Linked DNA regions of Homo sapiens: region 1 is linked to region 2. The links come from fine-mapping of genetic effects on gene expression. A gene starts in region 2. The other region holds a variant in brackets. All regions are shown on one strand. Distances are from middle to middle. Region 1 overlaps TBXAS1 (thromboxane A synthase 1). Region 2 holds the start of TBXAS1 (thromboxane A synthase 1).

Evidence for each region. PIP is the estimated chance that this variant, and not a neighbour inherited with it, causes the effect.
Region 1: its variant is fine-mapped to the expression of TBXAS1 in whole blood (INTERVAL, PIP 0.97).

What each region holds. Positions count from the first base shown.
Region 1 is chr7:139,945,443-139,950,821 of GRCh38, forward strand. The region is part of intron 5 of TBXAS1 (thromboxane A synthase 1); the gene reads left to right. LOC105375532 (a long non-coding RNA gene) reads left to right here. Exons shown (of 2, transcript XR_928043.3): 2 at 1-1,705. Among named protein-coding and RNA genes, the nearest start is that of PARP12, 110 kb to the right of the region's middle. The variant C/T (reference allele first, on the strand shown) is at 2,576.
Region 2 is chr7:139,826,469-139,831,847 of GRCh38, forward strand. It overlaps TBXAS1 (thromboxane A synthase 1), which reads left to right and starts at 2,796. Exons shown (of 13, transcript NM_001061.7): 1 at 2,796-3,011. The coding sequence starts at 2,923. RefSeq lists an enhancer at 2,469-3,668.

The sequences.
Region 1 (5,379 bases), 120 kb after region 2:
TCATGCTAAGAGACAGTGCCTCAATCTGTTCATGTTTCTTGGGTACCTTCTATGTCAAGGCTCTCAAGGAACATTTGATCAATCAGTCATCACACAGGTATTTCTAGAAAATCAACAGAATGGGGTGTGCTATGCTCATTCTTGATATAACAAATACCAAAAACTTCATTAATCCATGACAACATGCAATAGTTACCACAAAAGAGCAATATTGAGAGTGTATTAGTTATCTATTGCTGTGTAACAAAATTACCCCAAAACTTAGTGGCTTAAAACAAACTTTTGTTAGCTCATTGTTTCTGTGGGTCAGGAATCCTGGCATGGCTTAGCTGAGTGCAAAGGCTGAGTCCAGAGGGACTGAGGGCTGAGGCCAGAGGGATCAAGGTGTCTTGGAGTAGTAGTCAAATGGCTGGCCTGATCTGTGGTCTCATCTGAAGGCTTGACTGGGGGAAGATCTGCTTCTAAGCCTCATCACACGGTTATTAGCAGGATTCAATTCGTAATGGACTTTGGAAGATAAGAATCTTGTACTGTGTCCTTCAGTCAGTGGGGATCTACAAATGTTTCAGCAAAGCATTACTGAAATAACAAGTATTTTTGGAAGATCTGGCCAGGCATGGTGGCTCATGCCTGTAATCCCAGAACTTCAAGAGGCCAAGGTGGGAGGATCGTTTGAACCCAGGAGTTCAAGACCAACTTGGGCAACATAGGGAGACCCCGTTTCTACAAAACATTAAAAAAATTAGCCAGCTGTGGTTGTGTGTGTCTGTAGTCCCAGATATTAATACTTGAGGGGCTGAAATGGGAGGATGGTTTGAGCCCAGGAGGGCAAGGATGCAGTGAGCTGTAATCATGCCACTGCACTCCAGCCTGGGTGACAGAATGAGATCCTGTCTCAAAAGAAAAGAAAAGAGGCCAGGAAGCTCTTTCAAAGAACTTTCTTTAGTACACCTGGGTGTCAGGCACTATCAAAGTCCTAAGACTACAAAGATGCTTAGGCTATAGTCTTTTTTCTCAAGAAGGAAGATGACAACCATATTCCAGGTGACAAGTAGCAACACCTGAACTAGGAGGTGACTGAGGAGATAAATATGAAAGAACAGATGAAAGAAAGGAAGCAATGTTAACATGATGAGGCAAGAACAGATGGCTCCAATGGGGAGTTGTCCCTGAGGAACAAGAAAAGAGAAGAGAATGATTCCAGTAGTCCAAACCAGCCTGGGAGGACGGATCCCTCCAGAGGACAACTACCATGTTTACACCACTCCCTGCTTTCTGTGCCAAGTGTTTTGCATATTTTGTTTCTAATCTTTGTCACGACTCTTCAAGGGAGGTATTATTTTCATTTTTGCAGATGAGGAACTAGACTCAGTGAGGTTAGGCAATGTACCCAAGATCACACAGCTATAAAGTGCCAGGGGAAGGAAACCTACTAATTTGCAGTGCCTTTGAGTATTTGCTATGCTTGGGGCAAGTATTCTCCAACAAGGTCGGAATCTTACACTCAAGGAAGGAAACTCAGTGATGAGATTCTGTGAGTCACCCAAAAGGAGAGGAGAAGAAGACCTTTGAGCAGAAGCTCTCAGCCCTTCTTGGTCGTTACTCTCTTTGCCCACTCATCAGGCCCTCCCTCCTTTTAGAATTCACTCTGTTGCCCTCTGTCTGCACCTTGACTCAAAATTTCACAGACACAGTTGGTAGAAAATCCATTAAAAAAAAAACTGGTGCCCATCAATGACAGACTGGATAAAGAAAATGTGGTACATATATGGCATGGAATACTATGCAGCCATAAAAAGGGACTAGATTATGTCCTTTGCAGGGACATGGATGGAGCTGGAGGCCATTATCCTCAGCTAACTAACACAGGAACAGAAAACCGAACACCACATGTTCTCACTTACAAGTGGGAGCTGAACAATGAGAACACATGCGCATAAGGAGGAGAACAACACACACTGAGGCCTGTTGGGGGAGGGGGGAGGAAGAGCATCAGGATAAATAGCTAATGCCTAATACCTAGGTGATGGGTTGATAGGTGCGGCAAACCACCATGGCATATATTTACCTATGTAACAAACCTGCATGTCCTGCACATGTATCCCAAAACTTAAAATAAAATAAAATTTTAAAAAACTGGGTACTTTAATTACATAAGAATCTCCAGGTTATGCAGAACCTTCCTTCCTTGGGGAATTTGCTTCCCAGGGTGGGGATGGTGATTTCCCCTGAATGGTTACCACTGGTTGCCAGACAGCTGCTCAGCCTCACACTCGGCATCACCTGTGTAGGGACAACCAATGTGAGAGGCGAGAGGAACAAAATGGGAAACTTTCTCCCCTAGCTTGGCTACTGCACTGCAACCCCGGTCTTAGCTTGGGCTGTCATAACCAAACACCATTGAGTGTGTGGCTTAAACAACAGACTTTTTTTTTTTTTTGAGATGGAGTCTTGCTCTGTCACCCAGGCTGGAGTGCAGTGGCGTGATCTTGGCTCACTGCAACCTCCACCTCCCAAGTTCAAGTGATTCTCTGGCCTCAGCCTCCCGAGTAGCTGGGATTGCTGGCACGGGCCA[C/T]CACACCTGGCTAATTTTTGTATTTTTAGTAGAGAGGGGGTTTCACCATGTTGACCAGGCTAGTCTTGAACTCCTGACATCAAGTGATCCACCTGCCTTGGCCTCCCAAAGTGCTGAGATTACAGGAGTGAGCCACTGTGCCAGGCCCAGACATGTATTTTCTCACAGTTTTGGAGGCTGGGTGCCAGCGTTGTTGGTTTCCAGGGAGGCCTCTCTTTCTGGTTTGTGGGTAGCCGCCATCTTGCTCTGTGCCCACAAGACCTGTTCTTTGTGCATGAGAGAGAGAGAGAGGGAGAGAGAATAAGCATGAGTGCTCTGGTGTCTCTTCTTATAAGGACACCAATCCTATTGGATCAGGGCCCCATCCTTGTGACTTTAACCTTAATTACTTCCTTAGAAGCCCTATCTCCAAATACAGCTACACTGGGAGTTGGGGCTTCAATGTATGAATTTTGAGGCAACCCAAACATTCAGTCTATAAGAACTCCCAATAAATCACTTTTTTTAAACCTAATAACATTAATATTTTATCTGATTATAAGTGTAATACATGTGCATTGTGAAAAATTTGGAATAAAACAAAAAATAAAAATTACTCATTATCCCATGAAGAAGATGAAATGTAACAACCGAATGCATCTTTTAGTAAGATCTGAGTGAGAATAGCATTGTGTATTCATCTGTGCATGTGTGTGTGTGTGCACATGCCACGTTTGCCTGCTTGTTCAAAAATCTAGGAGAAGAACTGCGGGGTTTGTGGATTGTATAAAGATTATGCAAGCCCATCAAAGACAGCTTTTGTTTGTATGCAACTCATGTAAAAGTAAATATTCCGTAACTGCTGTGTAAAATGCAAGGAAGAAAACCTGAAATGATGGCTATTGGCCAACATACAGATTATGCTCGGCTGTCTTATAATATTTTCTCTGCATTGCTTTTTAAAACATTTTTCATATTACATGCCCCATCTCATATCACATTAACCCAAATAAAAATGTCATTATCCATTCAGTTCGACAGACAGCAAGCAGAGTATCGCAGAAAATTACAATCACGTCAGGCAGCAACAAAGGATTCTAGTCAAAAGCACGTAGAAGACCCGATGGTGGGCAGCTGGCCTGGGCTTTCTTTCACACTGTCCAGGAATATGTTTGGATTCAGAATGGGTGGCCCCCTCTTTATACACAGGGCATGCCTCTGAAGAGTTGTGTGTAAATCACATTTTATGTTCCATCTCTTTTGTTATGTTAAGAAAGCTTCAAGCTAGATATCTAAAAAGACTTCCTTTCAAACAGTACATATATATATGTAGATAGATAGACAGATTTTCTTTTACCATGTTACTATTCCTCTGAAGTAAATTTAAAAGGTATTTAGGTTTATGGGATTTTATTAAACTAGGATTCAGTTGTACCACTAAACTTATTAAGATAATCGAAGGAAGATAGCCAGTAAAGCTAGTTATAAAAATGTGGCTTAGACTGTACTGACTTTTCCAATGTTAAGGGTAGACTGAGACTTCTTGGAAGTTGGGGCCTAGAGACCATTTTAAGTGACCCATTGGCACACCCTTTTGTACTGATGGATTATTAAATCGATGGTTTGTGAGAATTTAGAAAAGCATACAGTAGTCATGAAGCATCAACACAGAGATACTAAGAATAAATCAGGATAGTCATACTTATTTTTCTTTTTTGAGTGGACTTCCAGATAGGTAGATGAGGTAAATCACATTTCTGTTTCTACAAATCATTTGACAAAGTCTTCCCCAGCTGACTCATCAGTAAAGCGGTGCCTGGCTGAGTATTTACTTAGGTTCATGCACAGATAGCCCAAGATCCAAAAACAGTGATGATGAATGATTCTGCGGCTACCTAAACCAGCTGTCCAGTGGAGGGGCACAAGGCTCTGCACCAGGGCCTGCCTACAGACCAATGAACTGAAGGGAGGCTTAGAAGGCACACTTACTACATTGCAGATAGAACGAAGAAAGAATAGCCCAGTGTTGCAGGTGATGGGATTTTTTTTTTTTTTTTTTTTTTTTTGAGACGGAGTCTCTCTCTGTCATTCCAGTGATGCATTCTTGGCTCACTGCAACCTCCACCTCCCAGGTTCAAGCGATTCTCCTGCCTCAGCCTCCGAGTAGCTGGGATTACAGGTGCCTGCCACCACGCCCAGCTAATTTTTATATTTTTAGTAGAGAGGGGGTTCACTCTGCTGGCCCGCCAGGCTGGTTTTGAACTCCTGACTTCAAGTGATCCGCCTGCCTTGGCCTCCGAAAGTGCTGGGATTATAGACCTGAGCCACCACGCCTGGCCAGGTAATGGGATTTTAATGAGTGAGTACATCTTTTGCTCCCCCACAGTGTTCAAACACCCCAGTGCTCTAAGCCCTGTGGCTTTATGAACAGCAAATCTATTTTCCCAAGATGGCTCTCCCTCCATGAGCCTTGGCAACAGGGCACTCATGAGTCTCAGATGCTCTGCTATCTCTCCACTTGGGTGTGTTATGCTGTGAACATTCTGCTCCTTGAGCTGTTGTTCAGCCGTCCATAGCGCTGTCCAGGCCATTGTCCCTGCCTTGGTTACCACCTCCACGTGGCAGCCTTCATGGAGCCATTGCAGCTTTGATCTACAGGACTCCCTCACCCTCCATCTACGGGACCCCCTCGCCCTCCATCTACGGGACCCCCTCGCCCTCCATCTACGGGACCCCCTCGCCCTCCATCTACGGGACCCCCTCGCCCTCCATCTACGGGACCCCCTCGCCCTCCATCTACGGGACCCCCTCGCCTTCCATCTACG
Region 2 (5,379 bases):
AATGGTCAGAAGGAAAGGAAGGTTCTTGGCACCTGTGCGGTTCACTATCTTATTTGTGGCTGTAACTCATCTCTTCCCCTGGATTTAAATACCAAATTTATGTTGATGGCTTCCACGTTTGAATATAATCTTTCGAGGAAGAGCATGGGCTTTAGAGTCATACAGCCCATGCCTCAGTTTCTTCCTCTGTAACTTGGGGCTAACCATAAGATTTACCCGCTAGGTGTGTGTATGAGGATTAAATGAGTTGACACATAGGAAAGCTCCTAGAATAACTAGTGTGTAGTAAGCACTCAAATGACATGATCATGATCAATTGTTATTATTCATATTTTCAGCCATCAGTGCTCTCTGGCTCGACACCTCCACTCAGATGTCTCCAGGGCATCTCAGGCTTAACAAAACTGAATCAGAATTCTTGATTTTCCCAACAATACCTCACCTTTCCCAGACTCCCTGTTTCAATGAATGGCACCTGATATACCTGTAGCTCAAGTTTGGAACCTGAGGGTCAGGTGTGGTCCTCCTTTCCCCTTCCCTTTCATATGCACCCCACCAGGAACTTCTGCAGAGCATGAACCCACCCCCAAAATATATTTCAAGTCCATCTACTTCTTCCCACCTCCCTCTCTCCTCTAGCCAAGCATCCCTTCTCTCTGGGTGAAGGCAGCAGCCTTCTGTGTGCCCTCCCTGTCTTTTCTCTCACTCCTTTCCAGGGAATCTGCACCTGTGACCACAGCCTTCTGTAACAAATGTACCTGTGACCATCCTAAGACCTGTGGGGGCACAGAAAAGGAAGCCCATAGCTACCCCTGCTGGCTTTTGGTGTCCATTTGCATGAAGTGTCTTTTTCCACCCCTTTACTTTAAGTTTACATGAGTCCTTATGTGTCAGGTGAGTCTCCTGAAGGCAGCAGATAGTTAGTTGGTGAGTTCTTATCCATTCTGCAGTTCTGTATCTTTTAAGTGCAGCATTTAGGCCATTTACATTCAGTGTTAATATTGAAATGTGAGGTACCATTGCATTCATCGGGCTCTTTGTTGCCTGTGTACTTCTTTGTTTGTTTTTTGCTTTTGTTTTTTAACTTGTATTTTTGTTTTATAGGTCCTGTGTGATTTATGCTTTAAAGAGGTTCTGTTTTGATGTGTTTCCAGGATTTGTTTCAAGATTTAGAACTCCTTTTACCAGTTCTTGTAGTGGTGGCTTGGTAATGACGAATTCTCTCAGGATTTGTTTGTCTGAAAATGACTGTATCTTTCCTTCATATATGGTGCTTAGTTTCACTGGATACAAAATTCTTGGCTGATAATTGGTTTGTTGAGGAGCCGGAAGACAGGGCCCCAATCCCTTCCAGCTTGTAGGTTTTCTGCTGAGAAATCTGCTGTTCATCTGATTGGTTTTCCTTTACAGGTTACCTGGTTCTTCTGTCTCACAGCTCTTAAGATTCTTTCCTTTGTCTCAACTCTGGATAACCTGATGACAATGTGCTGAGGCAAAGATCTTTTTACAATGAATTTCCCATGTGTTCTTTGTACTTCTTGTATTTGGATGTCTAGGTCTCTAGATGGCTGCAGAAGTTTTCCTTGATTCTTCCCCCAAATATGTTTTCCAAGCTTTTAGAATTCTCTTCTTCCTCAGGAACACCAATTATTCTTAGGTTTGGTCATTTAACATAATCCCAGACTTCTTGGAGGCTTTGTTCATATTTTCTTATTCTTTTTTCTTTGTCTTTGTTGAATTGGGTTAATTTGAAGACCTTGTCTTTGAGCTCTGATTTTCTTTCTTCTACTTGTTCAATTCTATTGCTGAGACTTTCCAGAGCATTTCACATTTCTAAAAGTGTGTCCAAAGTTTCCTGAATTTTCAATTATTTTTTCTTTAAGCTATTTCATTGAATATTTCTCCCATTCAATATTGGGGGATTGTGTTGGGAGAGGAGGGTCTCCCTTTCCCACTTCCGCAAATGGGGCACTCACAGTATTTGGAGTGTCTTCTGGGTCCTGCAGGAGCAGTCTGGTTCCTTCAGAGAGTCTGTGGGTCCTTTTGGGATTGCTGGTTTTTTCTTGCAGTTGATCTGGAGCTAAAATTCACCATGGAAGCCTCCAGATGCTGCTCTGTCTGAAGCTGCAATCTAGTCCTGCCACCCAGCCACTATGATCCCCTCCATCTCTCTGTCCACTTTAGTCAGATAAGCTCAAAGCTAGAACAAAGGACCCATATATGAGCCTACGGATCTGCCTTCAAACACTTGAGAAGCCCTCCAACTCACCATGAGAACACTGACCCCAATCGGGATCTTTGCTTTGCTCCAACAGCCAGACACTCAGACAGGTCCTCAGACCCAGCAACTAATGGACTTGGTGGGATGGTTGTCCTCAAAGCAGCCAGCATTTTGATCAGGCTGGCGTCTGGTCCTGTATTTTTCTGGGATATTCAGAATCTCTTGACATGTATCTTCACTTAATTGTGAATTTAAAAAATTATAGATGGATGTAGATATAGATATAGATATAGACATAGAGATAGATATAGATAGACATTTTGGAGAAGAGTCTCTCTTTGAAGACTTCCTCTCAGAGTACAAGTCCGTGGTTACAACCATTTTGTTTCTCAGCAAACATGGGGAAGTTTGCTTTTCTTCTCTGAGGAAGTTAATATAAATGTTTATTGACAGTGCAGTCATCAAGGAATAAAGTTGCTGATTCATTCCTTTACACTGAAACCCTTTGTTGTGCCCTCCTCTTCCTTCCTCTTTATAGGGAGACACTCTGAGAAAGAGCACATTGTGGGGGCCCACTCCATGTGATGTTTGCTTGGTTGCCTGTTCCCTTTTCTACCTGCAGAGCACGGTTCCCATAAGGGCGGCGAGATCAGCCTCCTGTCTCATCTGGAAGACCACCACTCTGGGGTCTCAGAGGAATGATGGAAGCCTTGGGGTTTCTAAAATTGGAAGTGAATGGCCCCATGGTGACGGTGGCCCTGTCAGTGGCTCTCTTGGCCCTCCTGAAATGGTAAGTGCAGCCAGCCCTAGGGACTGTGACAGCGTCAGCCGTCTCACCCTGGAGCCTTGCTGGTGCCATGGCGGGGTATGTGGGAGTGTGTTTTTCTTCTTTTCTAATCTAGCGGGAGTGAGTATTAACACAGCTTCAGAATTAAAAGCAAACAGCCAGGTTAATCTTTTGCTAAAATGCATGAGATTGAAGTGTCAGGAAAGGCTGGTGATTCAGTGACTGAGAACGCTACACATAATTAAGTTTGAAAGAGATGGAAAAAGAAACAAATTGGAAAGGCATTAGGTTTGGGTAGAAGCATTTCCTTGAACCCCGTCATATCTCCTCACCTCATTTTTCTAAAATCCTCTGTCCTTGTTGGATTTACAGTGAATTCAGCCTCTTGGTTCATATTACATTCAAAACAAAACAAGACGTAGGAGCTGTTTGGCAAATGTGGGCCTCTTTGCAGGAAGTCATTGAGGGGGATTTCTGTAGGGTTAAGGACAAAGTGGTAGATCTAATTTCTCATAGTTGATAGAGGGAGATGGATTCTGATGAACATAGTGTGTGCAGCTCCTACAAAATTTGAGACCCTGAAAGGATCTCAAACTTGAACTCCGAGTTGCTCCCCTGTGGTTTTGTTAATTCAACAGCAAATTTTCCTAAGGCTGACTCTGGTGTCTGTAGGTCGAAGGCCTCATAATATGCTACATTTATGCATATTCGCCCTGTCAGTTAAACTTATTAGAGTTACCCATTCAATCAAAAGCACCTGGATTTAGATGGCTCTGGCTTTTGAGGGCAAAGTGAGTGGAAAAAATAATGGAGGACTGGAGTCCGAACAGAATTTTAATTTATGTTTTCAGTAGTAATAAAGCCTTCTCTAGATTAATAACTGGGAAAGCACTTTGAAAAGCATCAAGCATTATGCAAATGTGAGGTATTATTCTTTTGGAATTTGCATAGCTGAGAGTGGAATTCACGTTTGATGTTCTATGATGATGAAATTACTTCTTGGAAATTGGCTCTGAAACCCAGCCTCAGTCCCAGTGCTGTTTTTCTTTTTAACTGGTTTAATTTTTTTTTTGAACTTTTTTATCTCATTGTAGCTTACCTTGGATTGAAACTGGCCACATGTAAAACCAAGAGCAAATGGTAGCTCCTTCCCTACCCCCAGCCCCCAATAATCCATCTCAATGTGTTTTTATGCTCCGGGAAGCCCGAAGCACAGTGTCTGACATGCAGAAAGTGCTTAGTCGATGTCAGCCACTATAATTAACCATCTATCATCTATGTAACCTAAAAGAAAATAAGTCTTTAGTGGTTTAGGTTTATTTTTAATTTCTTACTAATGTGCTTATTCATATTAATCTCATCAATAGCTATGCTCTGACTGTGGTTCTCAAAGCGGACACTTTTTTACACTTTTGTTTCAGTCTTTGTTGTGTCTGAGCCTCCAGCTCAGTGCCTGCCATGTAGGAACACCACACCATTCAGCAGGGCAGCTATGTGTTTGCTGTCTATTCTTGGGCCATATTAATAACCTGGTTCAAAGATGCAGAGATTAAGATAAATGTACCAAGCAGAAGTGGTAAACAGGAAGTGAGAGCTGACTTCTATTTGTTATTGCAAAAATATTTATTAACCTGTTAATGTGTGCCCAGTCTGGAGGAGGCCCTGGTACAAGGTCAGGAAGCAGGAGATCTGGAGAAGGTGCCCAAGGCAGGGGAGACACAGAGGTTCTGGGGGTGAGCTGGATGTCTAGAGAGGATACTGCAGGAGGAGCAGAGGCAGCAGGAGAGAGGTCACGGCCCTGGCTCTGGTGCTTTTGGGTCCATCCCTTGATTCAGTGCAAGGGGAACCACCCTTGGGCTTTCAACCCTTCTGTTCCGGGTGAGACTCTAGTCAGCCACTAAGCAACAGCCACCAGCTTGAATGAGGCAAGGCCCCCTTCCTGCTTCATTGTCTTGAAAGGATATGTGTGGAAGAGACAGGGGTGCTTTTCCTCCAGTGAGAGGATTCACAGGCAAGGAAAGATGGAGGTGTAGAGACACTTGCAGGAGAAACTGGCAGGGGGAGTGGATTAAACATTGCAGCACATTAGTCTTTGCTTTAAGTGTTACATGTGCCATCCAGCCAGGTGAGATGGCAGCAGAGAACCTAAACCCTGAGAAGGTGAAATCAAATGGGCTGGGCGCGGTGGCTCATGCCTATAATCCCAGCACTTTGGGAGGCCAAGGCAGACAGATCACTTGAGGTCAGAAGTTCGAGACCAGCCTGGCCAACATGGTGAAACTCCATCTCTACTAAAAATACAAAAATTAGCTGGGCATGGCAGCAGGTGTCTGTAATCCCAGCTACTTGGGAGGCTGAGGCAGGAGAATCG